Homo sapiens: one gene and its partners. The protein of the gene in region 6 interacts with the protein of the main gene of each other region in a biochemical or structural test. Each region holds a gene or a part of one and is shown on either strand. Other genes may lie near its edges. The genes, in order: VDR, XPC, ESR1, CREBBP, RAD1, TDG and SUMO3.

Region 1 (3,500 bases), about 56 Mb from region 6:
AATAACAGGAATGTTGAGCCCAGTTCACGCAAGAGCAGAGCCTGAGTATTGGGAATGCGCAGGCCTGTCTGTGGCCCCAGGAACCCTGCTTATCTAGTTCCTCAGAATCCCCCCTACGAATCGCCTGCACACTCTGCAAGGCAGAGCTAAGGGCAGTGAGGGGCACCTCAGCGTCCACACACCACAGGGGCTCTGCAAACCAGCAAAGTAGGTATTTCCTTATCTGTGTCTCCTTTTGCTACGTCTCCCTTCAGGTTGCCCAGCTGGCCCTCAGCAGGTCTTTGTCCTTCATACTCCCCGCTCCCCAGGTCCCTGAGCTCCTCCCTGCCTGGCCCCATACCTGGGGAGACGATGCAGATGGCCATGAGCAGGACATGCTCCTCCTCATGCAAGTTCAGCTTCTTCAGTCCCACCTGGAACTTGATGAGGGGCTCAATCAGCTCCAGGCTGTGTCCGGCTGTGAGAGACAATGGCCAGGTACTGCGGGCAGAGCTGAGGAGCCGCCCACCCACCTCCAACCCCATGGGTCTGACCCTCGCCCTTCTCTCCCTGTTGGTGCCTAACTCCCTCCCATGTATCTGATTGGAGCCAAACCCCAGGACGGGTGGAGCCAGAATCTGGGAGCTGAAAAAGACTCCCCAGGAGGTGGAGTCTAGGCATACCTTTGGTCACGTCACTGACGCGGTACTTGTAGTCTTGGTTGCCACAGGTCCAGGACATGTCGTCCATGGTGAAGGACTCATTGGAGCGCAACATGATGACCTCAATGGCACTTGACTTCAGCAGTACGATCTGGTCCTCAGAGGTGAGGTCTCTGCAGGGGAGGGAGGGAAGGAGGTCAGGTTACCAGTAAACGCCTTCAAGCCACACAAATCAGTTTAGTGCTTTGACAGGTATACACCTGCTGGGCACCAACATGCACCCTGGGTCTTTCATCGAGGAGCTTGCAGGCTGGCTGGAAGGGACAAGAGTGTTCCTTGAGAGAGAACAGTTCAACACTGTGATCATGTGCCAAGGCCAGAAGTGAAGTAGCTCAGTTACTAAGACAAGAAAAACTCAGAGACCAAGCAGCCAGAGCTATGGGGCACAGGAAACGGAGCCCAGGGAAGTTCCCAGCATTGAGGCATGAATATGGTGGTCTGCAAAAGGTAGGGCCATGGTATCTTCAACAACACCCAAGTTTTCTCCTCCTCTCCCTCCTACTGTCCTCCAGTCCTTCTCAGTAGTAAATTCAGCCAACTCTGTCTCTAGGATGTCTCTCAAGCCCGTGATCTTATTCCCACTCCTACCAGGAGTGCCCTGGTTCAGAGCTCCAGCGTCTTTTCCAATAGCCTCTTACAGGAATCCCAGACTTGTGTCTCTCCAGTCTCTCATTCATCTTTCTTACCACTGCTGCAGGTCAATGTCCTCTTGCACTCAGAAATCTTCACTGACTCTCAAACACCCTAGGATCAGGCCCACACTCCCTAACTTGGCTCCAACCTCTCATTCCAACTCCCTTTCCCATGGTAAACTCCACCAACCTTCCATTCTAGCAGCATCATGCCACTCCACATTCAGATGCTGTGTGTTCTCACTGTGCCTTTTTTTTTTCTTGTGACAGGATCTCACTCTGTTGCTGAGGCTGGAGTGCAGTGTTATGATCATAGCATGCTACAGCCTCAAACTCCTGGGCTCAAGTGAGTCTCCCACCTCAGCCTTCCGAATAGCTAAGACTACAAGCATGCGCCACCATGCTCAGCTAATTTCTTTTATTAGTATTTTTAGAGACAGTGTCCTGTTCTGTCACACAAGCTGGAGTGCAACAGAATGATTATGGCTTACTGCAGCCTCAAACTCCTGGGCTCAAGCAGTCCTCCTGCCTCAGCCTCCTAAGTAGCTGGGACTACAGGTGCACACCATCACGCCTAGCTAATTTTTTTTGAGACGGAGTCTCACTTTGTCGCCCAGGCTGGAGTGCAGTGGCGCGATCTCGGCTCACTGCAAGCTTCGCCTCCCAGGTTCACGCCATTCTCCTGCCTCAGCCTCCCGAGTAGCTGGGACTACAGGTGCCCGCCACCATGGCCAGCTAATTTTTTTTTGTATTTTTAGTAGAGACGAGGTTTCACAGTGTTAGCCAGGATGGTCTCGATCTCCTGACCTTGTGATCTGCCTGCCTAGGCTTCCCAAAGTGCTGGGATTACAGGTGTACGCCTAGCTAATTTTTAAATTTTTTTTGTAGGGATGGTGTCTCACTATGTGGCCCAGGCTGGTCTCAAATTCCTGGCCTCAAGTGATCCTCTCATCTTGGCCTCTCAAAGAACCAGGGTTACAGGTGTGAGCCACTGCACCCAGCCATCACCACGCCTTTCAGCATACTACAGCTCCAGCCAGGAATACCCTTCTAATTCTCCATTTTGTTTTTCTGGTCCTGAATCCACTGTGTTTTCCACTGGAGCCCCGCACCTTCTGACTCTTTAGCACAGTTAGGGCCATGTCATTGTGATGCCTTGAACATTGCTGGTGCTCTTATTTTGCCCGTCTCCTCCAGTTCTGCTCTTTACATGCTTGTTTTCTACTCCTTTTTTTTTTTTTTTTTTTTTTTTTTTTTGAGACAGAGTCTTGCTCTGTTGCCCAGGCTGGAGTGCAGTGGTGAGATCTTGGCTCACTGCAACCTCCACCTCCCAGGTTCAAGCAATTCTCCTACCTCAGCCTCCTGAGTAGCTGGGATTAGAGGCACCTGCCACCACACTCAGCTAATTTTTGTATTTTTAGTAGAGACGGGGTTTCGCCATGTTGGCCAGGCTGGTCTCGAACTCCTGACCTCAGATAATCTGCCTGCCTCAGCCTCCCAAGGAGCTGGGATTACGGCGTGAGCCACTGCACCCGGCCACTTGTTTTCTACTCTTGTTTGTAAGTTACTTGGGGGCCAGCACCTCCTCTTAATCACCTTACTGTTGCCCACACACTGACCATTGAGCCGTCAGCACAAGATGATCAATAGAGATGCGTTGATGATTTGAGAGGCCAATGACTAGTTCCACTATTCTGAGTCAGGAATGGGCTTGTCTGAACAATGGCGAGGAAAAGGCAGGGCTCACAAATCAGCTTGCTTCTGGCTTTTACTCCCTTTCTCTTCCTGACTGTCTACTTCCTCCTGGATATCCTGCAGATAGGCTGTCACCCCGTCAATGGCTGCATGTTTATATATAAAGATGGGAAGCTGATATTAACTGATGAGAGTGTTGTATCAATGGGTGATAGATGGTGGGAAATGAGAAGGCTTGCATGATCAGGATGGCCAGCAAAGGATCTGTATTGAAAAAAAATCACAACGTGCTAGAGTTGGAGGGCCCCTCTTAGGAACTCTTAGAGATGGCTCCTACATAACCTCTGCAGGACTCTCCTAGGGTCAGGGAGCTCAGGGCCTCTGGACACAGCCATGGGGTTGTTAGCGCCGAGATTAATGACCTCTTCTATTGAGCTACAATCCACGTGATAGTACACTCATTTGTGGTTTA
Region 2 (3,500 bases), on a different chromosome or scaffold from region 6:
CAGGGAACACTTGATTTTCTGCCTCCTAAGAAAGTTGAGGGGTGGGGAGAAGAGGAAGAACAGAGGGATAGTTTTTCATTTGCTTCATAAACAAATCCTCACTGCCAGTATCAGCTTTTCCAGCAGCCTCTAGTCCTGGGATGGGAGAGTAGTCCAGTAGAGGGCACAGGAAGGGACACGGGACAGCATGATGATTTTCCGCCATGATCCATCTCTTCTCCTTTTCTCTAGACTTCCCTTCCCGTCCCGCCCCGTCCCGTCCCCATCCCGGTCCCGTCCTTAATGGAGTCTCGCTCTGTTGCCCAGGCTGGAGTCTAGTGATGCAATCTTGGCTCACTGCAACCTCCGCCTCCCAGGTTCAAGTGAGCCTCCTGAGTAGCTGGGACTGTAGGTGCCCACCACCACGCCCAGCTAATTTTTGTATTTTTAGTAGAAACAGGGTTCCACCATGTTGGTGTCGAACTCCTGACCTCAGGTGATCTGCCCTGCTCAGCCTCCCAAAGTGCTGGGCTTACAGGCGTGAGCCATTGCGCCTGGCCTTCCCTAGACTTTTCTGAAGAATACCTCTGAACTTACTGCTTTCCAGTTGCCTCCCCTCACTAGTTGAATTCTATCTCCAGAGACATATACATAGAGATAGGCCACGATACTGCCAAGGAAAGCTCTGGGTCCCCCTTTCCCTCTCCCCTGAGCATTGACTGTGGTCATTTCTGCTATGTTCATTCTAAGGGGAAATTTTTATTGCTGGTGTTTTGAGAGAAAGTGGTACTCTAAAAAAAGAGTGTATTATTAGAGCTCAAGATTGATGATTGGTTATTTTAAATGTTTATACCAAAATCCTAGATAATATTCTCACTTGGTACCAAGTGCCAAAGTTTACACAAGTTAAAAGTAACTGGATACTCTAGACACATTTTATATATGAATTTGCAGAAATATATTACGTATCAGCAAGTACTTAGCCTTGAGCCATTGTTTAGCCAGCTACTTATCTATGTTATTATCTACTTAGCTAGCTAGCTGTCTATGTCTCTTGTTATTTATGACTCACCTATGTGTAGTTACATCCCTGCTTGAAGTTAGAATGCTATGAATTTCAGTCTCCTTACATCATATTTCTTAAAGATGGAAAAGAAGTCTGAGTAGGCTTATAGTAGGATATATAAATGGAGATTTTATTCTGTTCTTTCTGGCCTCCAACTGCACATATATCACACAGATATCACAGTTCTGGAACTCATTATTATTTTGGTGTCTTCTAATTTTTCCTTGTCATGTCCAGGCACAGCTATGTTTTCTTTCACACGATCTAGATTGTAGGTTTTTTAACAGCACATCTGGTAGTAATTAGACAGATGATCAGAGCACATCTTGATGAGATTTGGAACACATGTTGATGGAGGAAGTGAGGCTCAGAGCTTACTAATCATCTTTAAATAGTTGCAACAGATTCTCAATAAATAGGAGGGGTTTTAAAAATTCCATTTAGCTTGAATGGAACACTAGGATGTCTGAGTCTTCTTCATCTTCCTTCCTGTGGTCTTTACACAGGGACTTTCCAAGTGACCTCAAGAAGGCACACCATCTGAAGAGAGGGGCTACCATGAATGAAGACAGCAATGAAGAAGAGGAAGAAAGTGAAAATGATTGGGAAGAGGTTGAAGGTGAAACATCTTTCTTTGTTTTCAGAACTGTTTGGTTCTGTTTGTTTTTTTGTTTGATTCTGTTTGGAGTCAGATCACTAATTGCAATCCTTTTGTTTTCTTTTGAGCTAATTAGACCACAGATAAGGTTGTACTAGGGACTTGCTTTGATATATATGGAAAAACTCATGGCCAAGTTACCAAAGAAGGCTGTTTACTCTCTTCCTCTGGTGACTGTCAATGGGGTAGATATAAATAGAGAGGCAGCACTATTTAGGAGAAGGAGCACAGGCTTTGAAAGTAGTTAGAATTGGGTTCAGTGCTCAACTTTGCCACTTAGGTGGCAGTGTGAGTGAGTAATTTAATCTTGAGCAAGTAACTTCACCTCTCTGAACTGAGTTTTCTCATTGGTAACACTCTGTAAACACTGAATGTTTAGTGTGAGCCATTCACAGTATAGGCTGTAGGATTATTGTGGGGAAAAGAAAGTTTGCAAATGTAATGGGCCTAATGTATCATACACTCACAGTAAATACCAGCTAATGTTATCATCCCTGATTCCTTCTGTCTGGCCTGACTTTTCCTCACCTTTTTATTTTGAAAGTGTTCAAATTTATAAAAAGAGTGAAAAATGTAATATATGTCCTTCACCTAGGTTCATTAACATTTTGCCACATTGAATGTATGTTTCTCTCTGTAAATATTCATTGTGGAACCATTTGAAAATAAGTTGTAGATATTCTGATACTCCACTGCTGAATACTTCAGCCTGCATTTCCTAATAATTAGACATTCTCCTGCATGACAAAATGACCTCATCACACCTACGAAAATGAAAAATAAGTCCCCAATTGTTATGAAAGCATCCTTTATGCCTGTTTCTTTTTCCATACCAAGATCCAACCAAGCCTTGTATTTGGTCTTTATGTCACTTTACTCTCTTAATATAGAGCAGTATTTCCCACCTACCGCCTTGTTTTGCTTTTCATAGCACTGCCTTTTTTGAAGGATCCTAGTCTTTTGTTTTGTAGACTGTCTCATGTTCTAGTTTTGTCTGATAAACAGTCACACATCTCATGGTGGTGTTAAACTTGTTTCAATATCCCCTGTATTTCTTGTAAACTAAGTCCAAAGACATGTAATTTTGATTAAACTTTTATTTTTTTTCCAAGAATCCTTCCTAGATGATGCTTTAAACCTCATCTTGCATTGATTAAGCCACCTCTAATGTCAGGTTGTTCCTCTTCTAGTCATGCTACCTTTAAGCTAGCTGTACTACCATGTCCTTTTGACATGGCCTCATTAGTCTTTGAGAACATTTTTGTTCAGCTTATACTTTTCTTGCTGTAGACTTGAAACCAGCCTTTTTTTCTTCAAGAAGCTGTGGTTCATTTTAATAGAGATTCATGTATAGAGACCAAGATCTGGCATTAGATGCATTCTTTGCCAGTAAGATGTCATGGCTTCTAGGCCCAGAGCCTCTTTTAAGGAACTTTTGCTAATGAAGTTTTCAATTAGATCCAGTTCAGCAAGTTCAGTCCTTCTCAGCTACTGTATACAAGCAACGTAGGGGGTGAAGAGATGAAAAGGATATATTTTTTGTCACTTACAAGTTTATAATTGAGAATGAAAGATGGACACCTGAGTCATGACTCTATACAAAGCAAATTGTGCTAATTGTTATTGTGGTAATACAGAATACAGAGAAAAGGAGATTATTCTCACTTGGGTTTTTTTTTTTTAAAGAGTTTTAAGTATATACATACATGCATGAGTGTCAGCTTTTTGATAGAGGGGTCTGTATCTGATTCAACCCAGTATCTCTATGCTTTAGGTTCTTTATCTAAAGACTGTCTG
Region 3 (3,500 bases), on a different chromosome or scaffold from region 6:
CAGATGAACTGATGGACAACACAGAACATGTGTCAAAAAAATAACAATTCAAATTTTTACGTCATTGCCACATAACCCTGGATATCAGTTTTTATAACTTGAATAATGTAATTTGAAAATACTGTTCTTCAATATTCAAAACTCCTCTTTAGGAACATGTAGAGACTGAGCATGGTGGTTCATGCCTGGAATCCCAGCACTTTGGGAGGCCAAAGCAGGAGAATTGTTTAAGCCCTGTAGTTTGAGCCCAGCCTGCACAATATAGCAAGACTCCATCTCTATAAAAATGCTTCTTAAAAAAATTAGCTGAGAATGGTGATGTGTGACTGTAGTCCTAGCTACTTGTAAGGCTGAGGTGGGAGAATCACTTGAGCCTAGGATGTCGAGGCTGCAGTAGGCTATGATTGATCATGACAACTCCAGACTGCGTGAAAATCAGAGGAACACAGAAAAAAAAAATGTAGAAAGAGAGACAATCAGAGGAACACAGAAAGGAAACTGAAAATGAACAGTAAGAAAATTCTAGGAAAACCAAGAAAATAAGGAAGTAAAATGCTTTAAGAAAGTAGAAAGCTAAAAAAAAATGTAGGAAGAGAAGAGGAACACAGAAAGGAAGCTGAAAATGAACAGTAAGGAGATTCTAGGAAAACCAAGAAAATAAGGAAGTAAAATGCTTTAAGTAGAAAGGTTTATGGAGAGGATGATCAAGAATGGCAAATGGGGCAGAGAAGTCCAACAAAGCAAAGACTGGTTAAGTGAATTCAGACCTGACAAAGCAGACTCTTAGCAAGGAGTTTCCTTAGACAGGTACAGGCACAAGCCAAAATTCAGCAGATGGAATGTAAGGAGATGAAAATGAGGGAAGGCATTCCTTTGAGAACTTGGAGGAGAATAGGAAAAGATACAGATAGGGTGGCAGCTGAAGAATATAAGACCCAAGAAAATGAATTTTTTAGAATGAAGAGACTTGAGAAGGCCTCGTGTAGACTGAAGGGCATGGGCCAGGAGAAAGGGAATGTTTGAAAGCACAAAGAGGAAGATAAAAGAATAAAGCCAAGAAGGAAACTAGAGGAGTTGGGATTAAAAACACAGGTAAAAGAAATTGCCTCAATGAAGACAACTTGAAGAAGACTGGAAGGAAGGAGGTAAGGAAAGTAGAGGAAGATGAGTTTGCATCTCTCGCCAGACCAGACATAGGAGTAGATGTTATATTGGCCCAGGACTTGGCAGGCATGTGCAATCAAATAAAGGTGGAATAAGAGCCCAGCACAGTACCTGGCATGTAGTTGGCACTCCATAATATATTTAAATGAATGGAGAGAGTGTTCAAAGTTGTATAAGAAAGAAAGGTAGGCAGACATTGAAAGTATAGATGGAGTGAAGGTTCCTGTGAACATTTTTTAAAAAATGAAAATCCTAAGATGAGCTAAAGTCAATTGATGATAGCCCTTCCAGCAGGGTCTCTTGGCAAAGGAAGCTCAAGCTTCCTGCTTCCAGTCCCCACCCAAATACCCGAACCACACTGACTTTCACTGGCGCTCCCCTTCACAAGCCCTGTCTTTCCTTTTAGCCCAAATTGTATAACCTCTCCCTGCCTTCTCAGTCATTATTATGGTTCACAATTTTGTGGTAGTGGTTCTCAAACTACATTTGCCATAATATTCACAAAATATTGGCTCCTTGGGTTGAGTACGTCTGACTTTGCCAATTTCGTCCATTCTAAATAACTTAGTTCTGAGGTTGGCAGCCTCAAATAGGAATTCTTTATTTTTTAATGTTCATTAGAGAGCACTGGCTCACAGTTTTCAATTCTAGTTCATATTCTGTTACCCATCTCTTTCCATTTCACCACCATGCTGTTGAACCCACCCCCATCAACCTCAAATCTTTTTATTGCTTGTTTACTAATATCCTATGCATGATTCAAGTCAGTAGGAAGCAGCTATGAATATCTAACTGTAGAAGCTTAGTGCCTTTGGAGGTGGGAGTAGATATTTAGCAAGCATGAAATTGATAGATTCAATGTCTTATAAGCCTTATTAATTGTTATATCTAGCTCAGTGCCCAGCACATAGCAAGCATTCAATACATGTTTGTTGAATGAATGAAGGAATAAGTGAGTGAACAGTATACGCATGGCCAGAAGTTCCAATGTGTCAAGTATCTTCCCACCCACGCCTACATAATAAAATGCTATATTTTTTAAATTGTGGTAAGATATATATAACACAAAATTTACCATCGTAACCACGCTTAAGTGTTCATCAATTCAATCATGTTAGATATACTCACATCATCGTGCAACCAGTCTTCAGAACATTTTCATTTCACAAAACTGAAACTCCATACCCATTCAACAATAATTCCCCATTTTCTCCTTCCCCTATCCCCTAGCAGCCACCAATCTACTTTTGTTCTCTGTGAATGTGGCAATTCTAGATACCTCATTAAGTGAAACCCTACTTTTGCTTTTTGTGTCTAGCATATTTCACTTAGGATAATGTCCTGAAGGTCCATGATGTGACTAATATGCCATTGTCTGTATATACTACACAGACTTTGTTTACCCATTCATCCATCTATAGACATCTGGATTGCTTCTACTTTTTGGCTATTATGAATAATGTTGCTATAACTATGAGTATACAAATATTTCTTCAAGACCCAGATTTTTAATTCTTTTAGATATATACCCAGAAGTAGAATTACTGGATCATATGATAATTCTATTTTGATTTTTTGAGGAATCACCAGTGTTTTCCACAGTGGCTGCACCATTTTACATTCTCATGAACAAGGCACAAGGTTTCTATTTGCTCTATATCCTCTCCAACACTTACTCTCTTCTTTTTCTAATATAGTAGCCATCCTAATGAGTGCGAGGGGAATACTGCATTTTTATGTCTTTTGCCTGAATGCCTCCCTTACCAGCCACTCCTAATCCCCATAAACTTGAATCAACATCCCTGTTCTGAACTCTCTAGAAGATTTTTTTATTTCTCTTCTGCTACTTACTATATTAATCTTCAATTGATTAATTCTCATTTCCATTACTATCTGCAAAGTTCTTGGTGTCTTATTCATCTTTAAAATGCCATGTGCTTAGAGCATAGTGCCTCACTTGGAATAGGGACTCAACAACATTGATATCAAATGACTGAATCAATAAATGTATAGTTTCCACAATATAGATAGAATATGTAAATACTATTTTTATAAATATTGACAAAAGATTTAATAGCGAGAGCCCATTTTCCTCAGAAATAGCAAAGATGTATGCTGTCAGCAAAATGCCATTCATCTACATTTTATCTCTAAGATGACCCCCAGCTTACTGAAAATCAACTGCAGACTTTGGGCATAGAAATAGAAGGCATCTAAAGAAGACGGGGAAACTACATGGGCTATATTCACTAACCATAAAGGAACTTTTTTAGCCAACTTAGAAATCCATGTAAATAACATTGTCAATTATCATTTTGGCCCAGACTTACTCCATA
Region 4 (3,080 bases), on a different chromosome or scaffold from region 6:
TTGTATTTTTTGTAGTAGAGATGGGGTTTCACCATATTGGCCAGGCTCGTCTCAAACTCCTGACCATGTGATCTGCCCGCCTCAGACTCCCAAAGTGCTGGGATTACAGGCATGAGCCACCAAGCCCGGCCAGCACCACCTACAATCGTTTTTTTGAGACAAAATCTCACTGTTGCCCAGGCTGTAGTGCAGTGGCACGATCCCGGCTCACTGCAACCTCCGCCTCCTGGGTTCAAGCGATTCTCTGCCTCAGCCTCCTGAGTAGCTGGGATTCTAGGCGCCTGCCACCACACCCGGCTAATTTTTTTGTATTTTAATAGAGATGGGGTTTCACCTTCTTGGCCAGGCTGGTCTCGAACTCCCGACTTCATGATCCACCCGCCTTGGCCTCCCAAAGTGCTGGGATTACAGGCGTGAGCCACCGCACCGGGCCCGCATCTGCAATCCTATAATGACGAGCCGTTGAGCTAACTGTAAGTCATTAGCCAATCTGAACCATCTTTGAATCCAAGTAGTTTTACCATCTTTTATTATAAACACCATCACATTTCAAGTTTCCTCTTTTTGATCACAAATATAGGACTTTTTCTTCTCCTCTTAAGTATACAGCATGAGACACAGCGTTGGGGCTTTCCAGGTTTCTTACAGAAATTTCCTTACGACAAACTTAGGGTTAGCATCCACAGACCATGCTCTCGGTCACATCCTTCGACATCTGGATTGCCCAAGACGGTTGCACAGGATGCAGACTCCAAAGAGGATGAGGTTGGTACATAACGTTTTGAATTCCAGGATAACCTGAAACAGAGGCCCCTCCACTGCCCACATTAAAAGGCTGCACAACCAGGAGGGCGCCACTTTCTGAGTGTGGGCTTAGAGCTGCTGCTCTCGGGCTCTAGCCCCACTTCTTGTTTGAACACATGGCTCAAGGTTTCCCTACGGGTGGAAAAGATGAAGAGGACACTGGAGGTTAAGAACCCAGCAGGCCGAGCAGTGGCAGCAATCTCCACCGGAGGCCCGGCCTGTGCTTCCCCTCCTGGGATGGGGTGAATGGGGGCTGGTCAGGGGTGCCAGATGGTGGTCTTATTTTTACTTGAATTATTCTGCATTTTATAACTCAAGGTTCAAAGCTCTGTGCTAAAACTAGATCGGACCTTTCCAACTTCTTAGAAAGGTTCCTCGAATTCAGATTCCCAAACCAAGTATTCAGCTATTTAAAACCTATCTGTGAATGTAAGGGCCCAAACGGAAGCTATTTGGGGCGTGATTTCTAAAATTACCATCACCCCCACCTAGACCAGCCTTTGTTGGGGGACTAGGGATAAAGTGGGTTCTCTGGGTGCTGGGGGTGGTAGACTTAGGGGATGAACTTCAGCTCCCCTGCCCATGGTCCTCCTCTCAGTTTTACGGTTTTTGTGAACTTGTCTCACCCACTCAGTAAGGGAGCCTGGAACTGGACTCCAAGGGAGGCAGGACCATGTGGCTAAGTGCAAGTATCCCCCGAAGTGGGGGACCTTTCTCACTGTAACAGGGACCGGAGCTGGTGCTCCAAGGTGTCTGTCCCTCAGCATTTCCTCAAACGCCACACGGGACATGCTGCGCGGCAGCGGCAGGATTTGGGGGGAAGTCAGAAAGCACCTCGCGAGCCTGGAGCACTCTCTGCCTCAGATTCTGGGAGTCGTGTACGGGGGGGGGGAGCCGCCTGAACACGGGAAGAAGCGCCGCCTCTGGGGGTGGCAGCTACGACGGACAGGGAGGATGGAGGAGTGGGCCAAATGCAGTTTCAGACCAACTGACGACCCTAACTGTGTGAGCGACAATCACCTGTGAGCCTCGAATGTGTGGGGCCAACGCTGAGCCGCCCACCTCAGTCGCCCACCTCAGTCTCCGGGAAGAAAAGCCTCCGGGCGGCCGCTAAGCCTGGGCCACAGTTCCCAGCCACCACCCACGCCGCCACAACCACAACCGCAGCCCCAGCCTCTCCGCTATGAGCGAACAACCAGAACCATGTCTTACAAAGAACAGACTCAAAAAATATATATAAATAAATAAAAACCTTAAACATTCTTACAGGGATCTTAAAGAACAGAATACATGTTAAAAACCTCAGTAATTTATATCAATTTTAAGCGGTACTTTATATACAATGGGGAAAAAACACATGCATAGTCCAAATACAATGTTGAAAACAGCATTTTCATAACAAAAAACCCCGAACACTAAGTGTTAATACCATGTACATGAATTCAAGAAGGACCACCCTTTTTGTCTGTTGCACACAGTTTATTTAACAATATGATATAAGAAATGAGTTGGTATTTTACCATTCTATACAGTGATTGAATCTTCTCGAGTTTCGTATTTATAGGAATTAGAGCGCTTGCATGATTTACACTAGAATTGCTTTTCCTCATTTCAAGTTTCACATAGAAGAAAGAAAAGAAGGCTTCTTCTCTAGTAACATTAGCATGGTCTAAGAGTGATCATCCCTATTTTTTGTCTAAAACCAGTTTTATCAGAGAAACAAAGCAACAATTTCTACATCTGCAAGACAAGTTTGGCTTCAGCCATTATGTATAGATAGATGTGTGTGGGTGTGTACGTGTGTGCACGCCGGAGTCAATTCCTATCATCCAGGGTAATACTGGGAGACGCCCACAGAGTTCACTATAGAAAAAAATCTTCCCGAAACATCACAAAGTTATCGGGATACATTATAAGCTTGCATTATTTCAGGAATCAGTTCTGAATATTATTTTTCTTCTTACTTTTAAACATAAATGTTTAAAGTCTTGAAAATACAAATAAAAAATATGAATATAATGAACTTGTTTTTCCCGTTAAAAAAAGGCATGAGTCACCAGCAATGACGACAAAAAGAATCCAAACAAAACCCCCCTCCCCCCAAACAAAAACAAAACGGAAAAAAAAGAACCCCCCCCACCCCCCCGCCAAAAAAAAACCAAAGAGAGAGACCAGATATTTAAATCAACTGGTTTTTAACAAAAAAATATATTCTTTGTATTGTTTCTTTAAACATCAATCCACCCTTCCATGGCTCGGAAGTCGCAGTTCCATCT
Region 5 (3,500 bases), on a different chromosome or scaffold from region 6:
TCCCAAGTAAAGGATAAAAAGTAGCAAATCTAAGAATAAAATCAAGTACTTATCCAATTTGCTAATATTTTCTGTTTTAAAATTCATTCACTGTTAGAACCCTACATCCCCTAGTAAGTCCAGCACTCTACTATTCATTTTTATAAAATGCTGTGCATTTTAATTAACAGATTGAAAGTGTTTTTATTTAACAGAAATCTGGTATTTAACCTCCTCTTTATCACCAATGACAACCTCTATATTAAGAACTGACCTGTTGACTTGGGTCTGATTACAATGAAATGCTTCCATCAAATCAGAATCTTTGGGATAGTCAAGGTGGGAACTTCCTGCATTTCCAAAAGTAGATAACCTATAGAAAATGATTACCTCATTTATTCATTCATCCAAAAATAAACCACATTAGGATCCAAATAAAGAAAACACTTCCTTAAGAAATTCATACTAGTGGGTGAAACAGACATGTACACAAATGCTTATAACACACGATAACAAGTACCATAATAAAGCTCCCACTGGAGTTCAGGACAACTAATCAATGGGTTTGAAGAAAATCAATTGTAAAAGGAAAAGGGTAGGGGACACTTTAATTTCATTACCCTAATCCTACTCTGAAAATGACTTTTCCTCATCCTTAAGTCAGAAATATATAACAGGCGAGAGAATTGAGGACTCATGGAAGACCTTGATCTAAGTCTACTGCAACCCTTAGGTCTGTTCCCAATCCTACACCTAGGAATTACAGCTTTTCTGTATCTTAGACTGCTCTTAAGGCTATTGCATGGTTTTCCTCACTTGGTAATACCAGAAGTTATTTGTAGACAATTTATAAGTGTTAACATGCTGATTTAATTTGCAAGAACTCCTGGAACATTTGCTGCAGGATTAGCACGTTGCTAAGTATTATATGAGCATGGCGATAAGATCCAGGTTGGTTTTCCCTAAGCTCCATTTCTGCCTCCCATCTTCCAGGTGTGGTTTTCCTGGGGTCCATCTTTTCTTTCTTCTAATATAATCTCTCTCTCTGACCCGTCTCATCCATACCCAGCCATGATGATGGTTCCCAAATCTAAATTTCCAGTCTAAATGGATCTCCTGAGCACCATAACTACATATCCAGCCACTCCCTAGTGTCGCAGGTACTTAAAATTTAACATATCCAGGAAAAAATTTCAACTCCTACCTCCCTACCACCAAATTGTTTCCCATCCTGGAGATGAAAGATACCATGGTCCATCTCGTTACCCAGGCTGAGAGAGATCACTGAGGAGATCCCCTGAAATACTGTTTTAAGTACCTGAATTTTTTACTTCATTCCACTGCTAAAGTAAGGTTTCCAATTTCCATTTTGGTTAACTTTCTCAGACCTTGAGCCAAATTTTTAACTCCCCAAAGTCATGACAAGGGCCTGTGATTCTTTTTCTTTTCTTTTTTTTTTTTTGAGACAGATTCTCACTCTGTCACCCAGGCTGGAGTGCAGTGGCGCAATCTCAGCTCACCGCAACCTCCACTTCCTGGGTTCAAGTGATTCTCCCACCTCAGCCTCCCAAGTAGCTGGGATTATAGGCACGTGCCACCACGCCCAACTAATTTTTCTATTTTTAGTAGAGACAGGGTTTCACCACATTGGCCAGGCTGGTCTTGAACTCCTGACCTCAAGTGATCTGCCCACTTCGGCCTCCCAAAGTGCTGGGATTACAGGTGTCTGCCACAGCACTTTTACAGCCGGGCCTGTAATTCTTCTAAAGTAGTTACAAAAAGAATACCTTATTCCTTTTATTCCATATGTATTTAGGGGCTTTAATATTCTGAAATATTTCAAAAAGAGAATATTTAGATCCTCTCTCTAAATTGCTAGAATCTCTGAGTCTAATCCTGAAAAGAGACTTGTGTTAAACTATCAAGAACAGCTTTTTTGACATTGTACTCCTGCTGAAAACTGCCCTCCCTTGGGAAGCCAGCCTTGAGCAATCCTCCCTAAATCCTTATACAGCATTTCCCAGGTATCTGTGTGTGCTATCTTGGTACTTAATGGTTTGCTGTTTCACATTTTCTTGGCTTCACCTTGGTTTTAAGCTGTTCTTCCCACAATGCTTAATAAGATGAATAAGCACACGGTAGGTGATCAACAGATACTTAGTGAATGAATGAGCCACGTGTAGAAAACATCTTCTTCTGCATCCTGAACTAACTTGAAAAAGATACCATAATACAAACACCCTTTCCAAACACTTAAACCCAATTTTCCTCATGATGTAACCTGATCTATGAAAGTAAGGAGTAGTACAATGAAAACACCACCAGTTTATAAATTAGAGGACTGGGCTTCTCATCTAGATGCCACCACCACCTAAATATGAAATAGTGAGTTAATCTTCCTGGGTCTTAAGTTTCTTGATCCATAAAATTATGAGGTAAGAGTACAAGCTGTCTAAAGTTGTGAAAACTCTAAAAATGTGGATAATAAAAATTTTGCATCCTAAGCAAATGTCTAAGTGGGAAGATGGAGTACAGACCACATTAACTATAACTGCACTGCTCTCAAGTACCTGAAATAAGGCTTGTCAGGAGACATGGTAATTTGTAGGACTTCACTCGTCATATCCAATTCAGAAAATGCTTCACGGAGCCCCTCTGACTGCAGAATAATTTTATTAATAACATTGGTGCTGCAGAAATCAAAGTCCAGGGTCTCCTCAGGTTCCTGTGTATTGATTTTGCAGACTGTCACCACTCCTCCTTCTTCCAGGAACAGCATCAAAGGGTAACCATAACCTTGGTAACACATTCGAAGTGCAGTTAAAGTCCCTGCAATGGAAAGAAGTCATACTTGGCCTTAGCTTTATAGTTCTGGGTTCAGCTTCTCCTCGAAATGATACATAAAATTTCTCAAGAATAATTTATTCCGCCCAATTTCTCACATATATGTATCTCCTCATAAAAAGGGATGACATCTTCCCTGATGACAGTTGTGTGTAGAGAATTCCAAAACTACAAGAAAATTGGGAACCAGAACAAAATGTAACATAATTCTTTGGAATCATTTTCAGGTTGTCATACACACCTCAGAAATAGCTTGTTGATTTTATATATGTACAATTTCAGGGTAGAGAATCTATATGGATCAACACAGCAAGTAACTAAATTGCTGCAGAACAGGGTATGCTATTCCTTGAAGGTTCAATGTGTGTAACAGTGGATTGCTGTCATCTGTACTGTAACGTCAGTGTACTCACTATGACAAGGATCCTTCCAACTTTTCCAACTGGGAGATATTCTTTATATTTCCTCGAATTTAAAAATCAAATTGAGAGAAAAAGAGGGTTGTTAATGGTGGTGTAAATTTTAACTCTGCAAACCACTAGAGGGAAGGAGGAATATGACAGGATATTCAAACTCCTTCTCCTTACTGGATTGAGAGCCACAGTGAGGAATGGAAGATGACAGATGCTTCTGTGAAAAACTAGCTGGAGAACACTGTATTAGAAAATGTATAATTA
Region 6 (3,500 bases):
AGCACTTTGGGAGGCCAAGGCAGGCAGATCACCTGACGTCAGGAGTTCAAGACCAGCCTGGCCAACATGGTGAAACCCCCGTCTTTACTAAAAATACAAAAATTAGCCAGGCATGGTGTCGTGCACCTGTAATTCCAACTACTCGGGAAGCTGAGGCAGGAGAATTGCTTGAACCCAAGAGGTGGAGGTTGCAGTGAGCTGAGATCATGCCTCTGCATTCCAGCCTGGGCAACAGAGCAAGACTCTGTCCAAAAAAAAAAAAGAAAGAAAAAAGAAAAACACAATGGCTTGTGGGCTTGTTTTAGAGATGAGGTGTATATTCTGTTCCATACATAGTTGAAGAGGGGAATTTAGGGGTGCCCAGGATGACATCTCTGGGCTGGCAGTATTTTTCAAAAGGCAAGAGGAGGGATCCAACCTCAGGACGTAAAGCAGTTTCTCAGCCTCCACACTATTGACATTTTAGGTTGCATAATTTTTTGTTGTGGGTGGCTGTACTGCACATTACAGAATGTTTAATAGCACCCCTGATCTCTACCCACTAGATGCCAGTAGTAACCTGCCAGTCTTGATCATCAAAAGTGTCTTCAGACAATGTCAAATGTCCCTTGGGAGGGCAAAATCACCCTTGATTGAAAACCACTGACCTATAGTTACCCAACAGGAAGCCCTGATTTTCTTACCCTTAATTATTTAACATTTCTCCTAACTACTCAGGCTTCTACCCTATTCTACTCCTCTTTGGCGTTTCCCCAATCAAGCCTCGCAGGATACAGGCAGTCAGTCCCTCCTCTCTTCTGCCTCACATTGTCTTAGCCACTCCCTATGCCAACAGATCCACCATCACTGGCATGTAGCTGGGGAAGTCCTAATGCGGAGGCAGAGTTATTAGATGTGTTCCTGCAATCATAAACCAAAACCCTGAGCACATTTCTCATAAAATACTGTTACACTGGAGAAAATCATTAACTTCTCTCCAACCACTCTCCCACCCCTGGAACCTATTATTTTCTTCTAATTCTCTGTCTTGGTGAGTGGCACCTCCTCCAACCAAATGCCAATGCCAGAAACCTGGTAGTTACTTCTGGACTCCCCTTTCTCCCCCACTATCCTGCCATGCTCCCCCCAAACACATGAAACCCATTAGCCATGGCTAGGTAATTCTACCTCCTAAGTGTTTCCTAATTCTTTCTCCACCCCTTCAGGTCCTCCTCAGTGCTCCCCTAGATTATTCAAACAGTGTCTCTAATCCATCTAATCCACTCCTTGACTCCAAGTTTTGTTTTTGTTTTTGTTTTTGTTTTTGTTTTTGAGACAGAGTCTCGCACTATTGCCCAGCTGGAGTGCAGTGGTGCAATCTTGGCTCACTGCAGCCTCTCAGCCTCCGCCTCCAGGATTCAAGCAATTCTCGTGCCTCAGCCTCCCCAGTAGCTGGAATCACAGGTGTGCGCCACCATGCCCGGCTAATTTGTGTGAGGCAGGGTTTTGCCATGTTCGCCAGGCTGGTCATGAACTCCTGACCTCAGGTGATCTACCCGCCTCAGCCTTCCAAAGTGCAGGGATTACAGGTATGAGCCACTGTGCCCGGCCTGCCTCCAAGTTCCGACTTGTTGTCTACCAACCAATCTATCTTCTCTAATATTTCCAGGCTAATTTGTAAAGCACCAGTCAAGTAAGTCATCCCTTGCTTACATTCTCTCAACAGCTCCCTATTGCCTTCATGATAGAATATAAATTCTTTGGGATTAAAAAACAAGTTTCAACTGTCCCCATCCAGCCTCACCTCTCACCATTTCCTTGTTATATCCCAGACTCCAAGGACACAGAATTGCTCTGTTTCTGGCCATGCCATGCTTGTGTGTGTCTGTACCCAGCCTGTATAGCTCCCTCAGCCTGGACATGTCCCTACTCTGATCTTTATCGGGATGAAGCCTCCACATTGTTGGAGTTTCAGAGCCCTGGTGTTATTTCTCTGCTCTGGGAAGCAGCCTCTGAGCCATCAGTCTGAGTTAGAAGCCAACCCCATAAGCTTTCAGGGCATTCATTCTATGCCCCTCTTCACTACAAACTGTGCTGAGCTGTAACGTGTATTTACTTATTACTTTTCTCTACTAGATTATGAGATATTTTTGGGCAGGACCCATGTTCTTTTATTCCCCAGAACCTATCAGTGCTTAGCACATACTAAGTACTTAAAAAGTGGATTTGACTTTTTAACACTAAAATAGAGCTAAAATTCACCATGAAACCCTTTCTCAAATAAGCTGGCTGATCCGATGTTGAACTTTCTAAGCTCTCATGGTGAAACTACCTTGCACTGGTTCCTGAGCAGGAGCTGGGGCTGGAACTTCTTCTGGCATTTGCTGTTCATTCACAACTGCCATATTAGGAGCTTCAGCCATCAGTTGTTGAAATGGAAACGTATAAAAAGCTTGAGCTTGCTGAAGGGAATAGCTGAAAGAATAATGAAGCATGAGATGTAATGATAAAATTACCCAAATGTAAATCCAAATGATCAGCTGTACAAAAATCTTCAGTACAGTATTAAGTATTTTGTAACCAGACTGAAGTATTTATTTAGAGTGGATTACAGAGGAGAGATCTAGTCCTGTATGTACATGTTCACCAACCTTTACTGAGTGCTTAATAACCAACCATTAACTCTTGCACTGTTTAAATGATAAGATGTGTCACTGATAAAACTGATCAGTCCTGTCAAGTCAGCCCATACTTTCTCTGAAATAAGATTTGAGGGAGTTTTCTAGTAGACAGACTTGAAAGGTCTATCAACCCATACAGGGTTAAGATGTCCCCAAATACAATTTGTGCCCCTACTTTCCTTCAGTATTTAATCACCTGAAGATCCCCTCCAATCTAATTAAGATTCTCTTTTAGTTTATTTTTATTTGCCTGTTTACTTATTTTTTCATTAGTTTGTGTGTGTGTGTGTGTGTGTGTGTGTGGGGAGACAGGGTCTCCCTCTGTCACCCAGGTTGGAGTGCAGTAGTGTGATCTTGGTTCACTGTTACTTCTGAGGTGGGAGATCTCAAGTGATCCTCCCACCTCAGCCTCCCAAGTAGCTGGGACTACAGGAGCGAGCCCCAATGCCTGGCTAATTTTTGTAATTTTTGTCTAGACAGGGTTTTGCCATGTTGGCCAGGCTGGTCTTGAACTTCTGAGCTCAAGAGATCTGCCCATCTCAGTTTCCCCAAGTGCTAGGATTACAGATGTGAGCCACTGCACCCAGGCCTATATTTGATTTTTATTGATGGTGGTATTTTTGTTTTGTTGGGGCTAGGGCTTTTTTTTTTTGCCACTGCTATGGTTTGAATGTGTCCCCCAAAGTTCACGTGTTGAAAACTAAATCCCCAATGCAAGTGTTGAGAGGTAGGACCTTTATGAGGTGACAAGGCCGGGCACAGTGGCTCACACCTGTAAACCCAGCACTTTGGGAGGCCGAGGAGGGTAGATCACCTGAGGTCAGGAGTTTATAACCAGCC
Region 7 (2,946 bases), on a different chromosome or scaffold from region 6:
AACAGCTCATTTTCAACCTGGGTTTTGTTACACCACTGCACACTGGGAAATTCTTAAAGCCAAATCAATGTCAGTTCAGTTTCAAAGCAGATAGGTAAGTTGTCCATGGCAGAAGGAAAGCTGACTTACATTCAAACACCAGAAAACGAGAGATGTCCTAGACTAACACCCAAGCTCACCTGCCTCTAAAATCCACCCTTTCTTTACATACGAAACCCAGGAGAGGGAGGGTAACATGTCACAGTGATGCCAGCTCAGACAGCTGTCAGCCAGGAGGTCTCTGAGGAGAGGATGCATCCCTCAGCAGGAAGAAGGCTGGACTAGCATTGGTGATGTGCCAGGGGAGGGGAAATGAGCTGCCAGGCGAATACTAACCTTCCAGCGGCTAGCTTTTCAATCAAAGTTTCTCAGTGCAGTGGCTGCCTGGAATGGTCAATTCAAACACTGAATTGTACCAGTATGCCCCAACCTTCAAATGCAGTGTTTAGTAGAAGCCAAGAGACAGAATACCAAACTATATTTACTGTTTACAGTAGTAAAGGACAACAAATAATGTACAAATTGGTGAATAAACACAACAGAGCCAACAAACATCCCACCCGAGCCCATACAGCAAACAGGAAATGAGAACATTTCAGCAAGATTTCAAGCAAGCAAGAGATGATGGGTCATTGTTCAGGTGACTGTAAAAAGGCAGAGAATGGCCACCAAGCAGCAATGGAGCCTCAGGGAAGGACAATAGGCAGAACTATGAAAATGTTTAATTGGTATAGATCCCAAAATATTTCACAGAACTGAAATCACCAGACTAATGCATAAATTCAATACCTATTTGGAAAGCAGCACGGCACAAACCCACGAGAAGAACATGAAGTCATCATTCCATGGGTTCATTTGTAACCACACTTGGAAGTAGCTCTTATACACGACAACATAACTGCAAATTCAGCAATACTTAGTCTTACTTTTTTATGTATAGACCATAATCATTCATCAGAAGCAAATACTAGAAGAAATCTGAGGCCACAACACCATTACCAAATGAGAAATGTGGGAATTTCTTCAATATTAAGAGGGAGAAAAAGGCCAATTTTGGTTGTGCCAATCCTTGCCTGTGTACCAACGCCAGGTACTGAGCAGGGAGTGGGGTGGGAGGGGTGGCAGGGGGGTGGGTCCTGGGCCTCAGACCCCGAGGTTACATGCTTGAGGGCCAGAGAGCACGTGGGGTCAAATTACCAAAAGACTCGGTTATTTTTTAACCTTTGAAGAAGCATTCCAGTATTTTCCCTTCAACTTTTCCATATACTGACAAAGCTTAAATTTGCAATATTTAGCATTTTAATCACCTGTGCCTGTAACAGCAAGTGACAGTCTGTCCTCCCTACCAACCTTGCCCCCAATACCTGTCCAACAGCTGCATCCCCACTGCGGGAAACACCAATTCTCTATGTGACTGGAGTGAGCAGGGGAGAGGCAACCAACTCAGGAGTCAGATCCCTGGCCAGACTAAAAGCGAACATTCAGGCTATAATTTTGGGGTTAAAAAAATGTTGTAGGAGGGGGGGAAAACACAAATGAGCACACAAAAGTACCCACAATATCTTGCAACTCATTTTACCTGAACAAAGATAACAATTCTGATTGGCCCAATTTAAGTTACAGATTCATCCCTGCAGATATAGTTTTGAGTTGCACTTGAAGTACATCAAAGAGAGGAAAATCATCGTGGTGAATGTCCTCGAGTTTCCGCAGACACCTTTGTGGTCGGCATGGTCACGTGCTCACCATTCAACAGCAATGCGAGGATGGACGGCCCGGGCTGGGGACGGGCCCTCTAGAAACTGTGCCCTGCCAGGCTGCTCTCCGGCACACCTCCCGTCTGCTGCTGGAACACGTCGATGGTGTCCTCGTCCTCCATCTCCAGCTGTCATGGTTGTCACAACAGGCACAGCGAGAGAGAGGGGAGCCTGTTAGTTTTCATCAGAGAGTGGGAAGATCCTCACTGGCATGAGTGTTCCCTGACACTAGCGACATCACCTGGTCACACCTTGGCTCTTGTCCGTCCCCTCACTGCAGCTCAGCACGCATGGAAGAGGCATTGCTGTATGCTCACTACAGCCCTTACGGTTCAACAAGCTTCCCCTAACAAAACTCACAAAAGCAGATTCAAAGCTAAAATGTTAACTGAGAGAAAAACTGAGTCTAGAAGATAAACTGAAATGTCTAAAATTCTTACTGAAAATTACACAAAATCAGATTCTAATTAAGAACATCTGATTAGCAGCACTGAGTCCTAGGACCCACAGGAGCCTTGCGCTTTATACCAAGTGCGGGGGACCATGCCATGAAAGCCAAAGCCCCCAGCTCACAGAAGGGCCCGTCAAGTGAGGGTCCATTGCCAGCTTCTCCCCGCCCCTCCCCATTTAAAGCCCAGGCAAGGTAGTGAAACACCCCCGCTCACTTCTCTCCTCCTGACACAGTGGGCGCAAAACACCCACCCTGATCTTCTTCCATCCTCTAAGCAAGAGGAAGCTTCTGCCAGTTCCTACACAGACTCAGCAAGGCTGGAAGTAGTCATGCTCCCAGATGGAAAGGAGTCCCATCAGGGCTGTCGGCCACCCTCACCCTGCCACCGACACTATGGGCTGGAGGGAGAGCCCCCAGGCAGGGCTCCCTCTGCCTCTCGGTCCACCTGTCCACAGCCAGCCCCCTGACCCCCAGTCAAGCCCCAGAGACTCCACGAGGCCCTCCCTGCTCAGCTGCTCTCAGCAGCTTCTCCCTGGTGAACACTCCCAGAGCTGCCACTGCCTCAGCGGTGTGTAGGTTTCCTCAAGTAGGTACAAATGGATACTTGTTGCAAAGATGTTTTCAATATTTATTAAATACTGAATAGTAAATATTTAAAATCTTAAATGTTTTGCAAAAATATTTCCACATAAAACATTC

Evidence for each region.
Region 1: the proteins of TDG (region 6) and VDR form a complex in vitro, tested with the Homo sapiens proteins (one study listed by BioGRID).
Region 2: the proteins of TDG (region 6) and XPC form a complex in vitro, tested with the Homo sapiens proteins (one study listed by BioGRID).
Region 3: the proteins of TDG (region 6) and ESR1 form a complex in vitro, tested with the Homo sapiens proteins (one study listed by BioGRID).
Region 4: the proteins of TDG (region 6) and CREBBP form a complex in vitro, tested with the Homo sapiens proteins (2 studies listed by BioGRID, with this or other methods).
Region 5: the proteins of TDG (region 6) and RAD1 form a complex in vitro, tested with the Homo sapiens proteins (one study listed by BioGRID).
Region 7: the proteins of TDG (region 6) and SUMO3 form a complex in vitro, tested with the Homo sapiens proteins (one study listed by BioGRID).

The regions. Positions count from the first base shown.
Region 1 is NC_000012.12:47,845,995-47,849,494, forward strand, and holds part of VDR (vitamin D3 receptor), read right to left. Parts: intron 815-3,500; coding exon 663-814; intron 458-662; coding exon 341-457; intron 1-340.
Region 2 is NC_000003.12:14,168,602-14,172,101, reverse strand, and holds part of XPC (DNA repair protein complementing XP-C cells), read left to right. Parts: intron 1-1,551; coding exon 1,552-1,664; intron 1,665-3,500. UniProt on the Homo sapiens protein: Involved in global genome nucleotide excision repair (GG-NER) by acting as damage sensing and DNA-binding factor component of the XPC complex. Has only a low DNA repair activity by itself which is stimulated by RAD23B and RAD23A.
Region 3 is NC_000006.12:151,838,682-151,842,181, reverse strand, and holds part of ESR1 (estrogen receptor), read right to left. Parts: intron 1-3,500.
Region 4 is NC_000016.10:3,724,554-3,727,633, forward strand, and holds the end of CREBBP (CREB-binding protein), read right to left. Parts: 3' UTR 501-3,080; downstream 1-500. UniProt on the Homo sapiens protein: Acetylates histones, giving a specific tag for transcriptional activation. Mediates acetylation of histone H3 at 'Lys-18' and 'Lys-27' (H3K18ac and H3K27ac, respectively).
Region 5 is NC_000005.10:34,909,005-34,912,504, forward strand, and holds part of RAD1 (cell cycle checkpoint protein RAD1), read right to left. Parts: intron 2,809-3,500; coding exon 2,550-2,808; intron 353-2,549; coding exon 254-352; intron 1-253. UniProt on the Homo sapiens protein: Component of the 9-1-1 cell-cycle checkpoint response complex that plays a major role in DNA repair. The 9-1-1 complex is recruited to DNA lesion upon damage by the RAD17-replication factor C (RFC) clamp loader complex.
Region 6 is NC_000012.12:103,975,872-103,979,371, reverse strand, and holds part of TDG (G/T mismatch-specific thymine DNA glycosylase), read right to left. Parts: intron 2,455-3,500; coding exon 2,312-2,454; intron 1-2,311. UniProt on the Homo sapiens protein: DNA glycosylase that plays a key role in active DNA demethylation: specifically recognizes and binds 5-formylcytosine (5fC) and 5-carboxylcytosine (5caC) in the context of CpG sites and mediates their excision through base-excision repair (BER) to install an unmethylated cytosine.
Region 7 is NC_000021.9:44,805,117-44,808,062, forward strand, and holds the end of SUMO3 (small ubiquitin-related modifier 3 isoform 1 precursor), read right to left. Parts: intron 1,925-2,946; coding exon 1,835-1,924; 3' UTR 501-1,834; downstream 1-500. UniProt on the Homo sapiens protein: Ubiquitin-like protein which can be covalently attached to target lysines either as a monomer or as a lysine-linked polymer. Does not seem to be involved in protein degradation and may function as an antagonist of ubiquitin in the degradation process.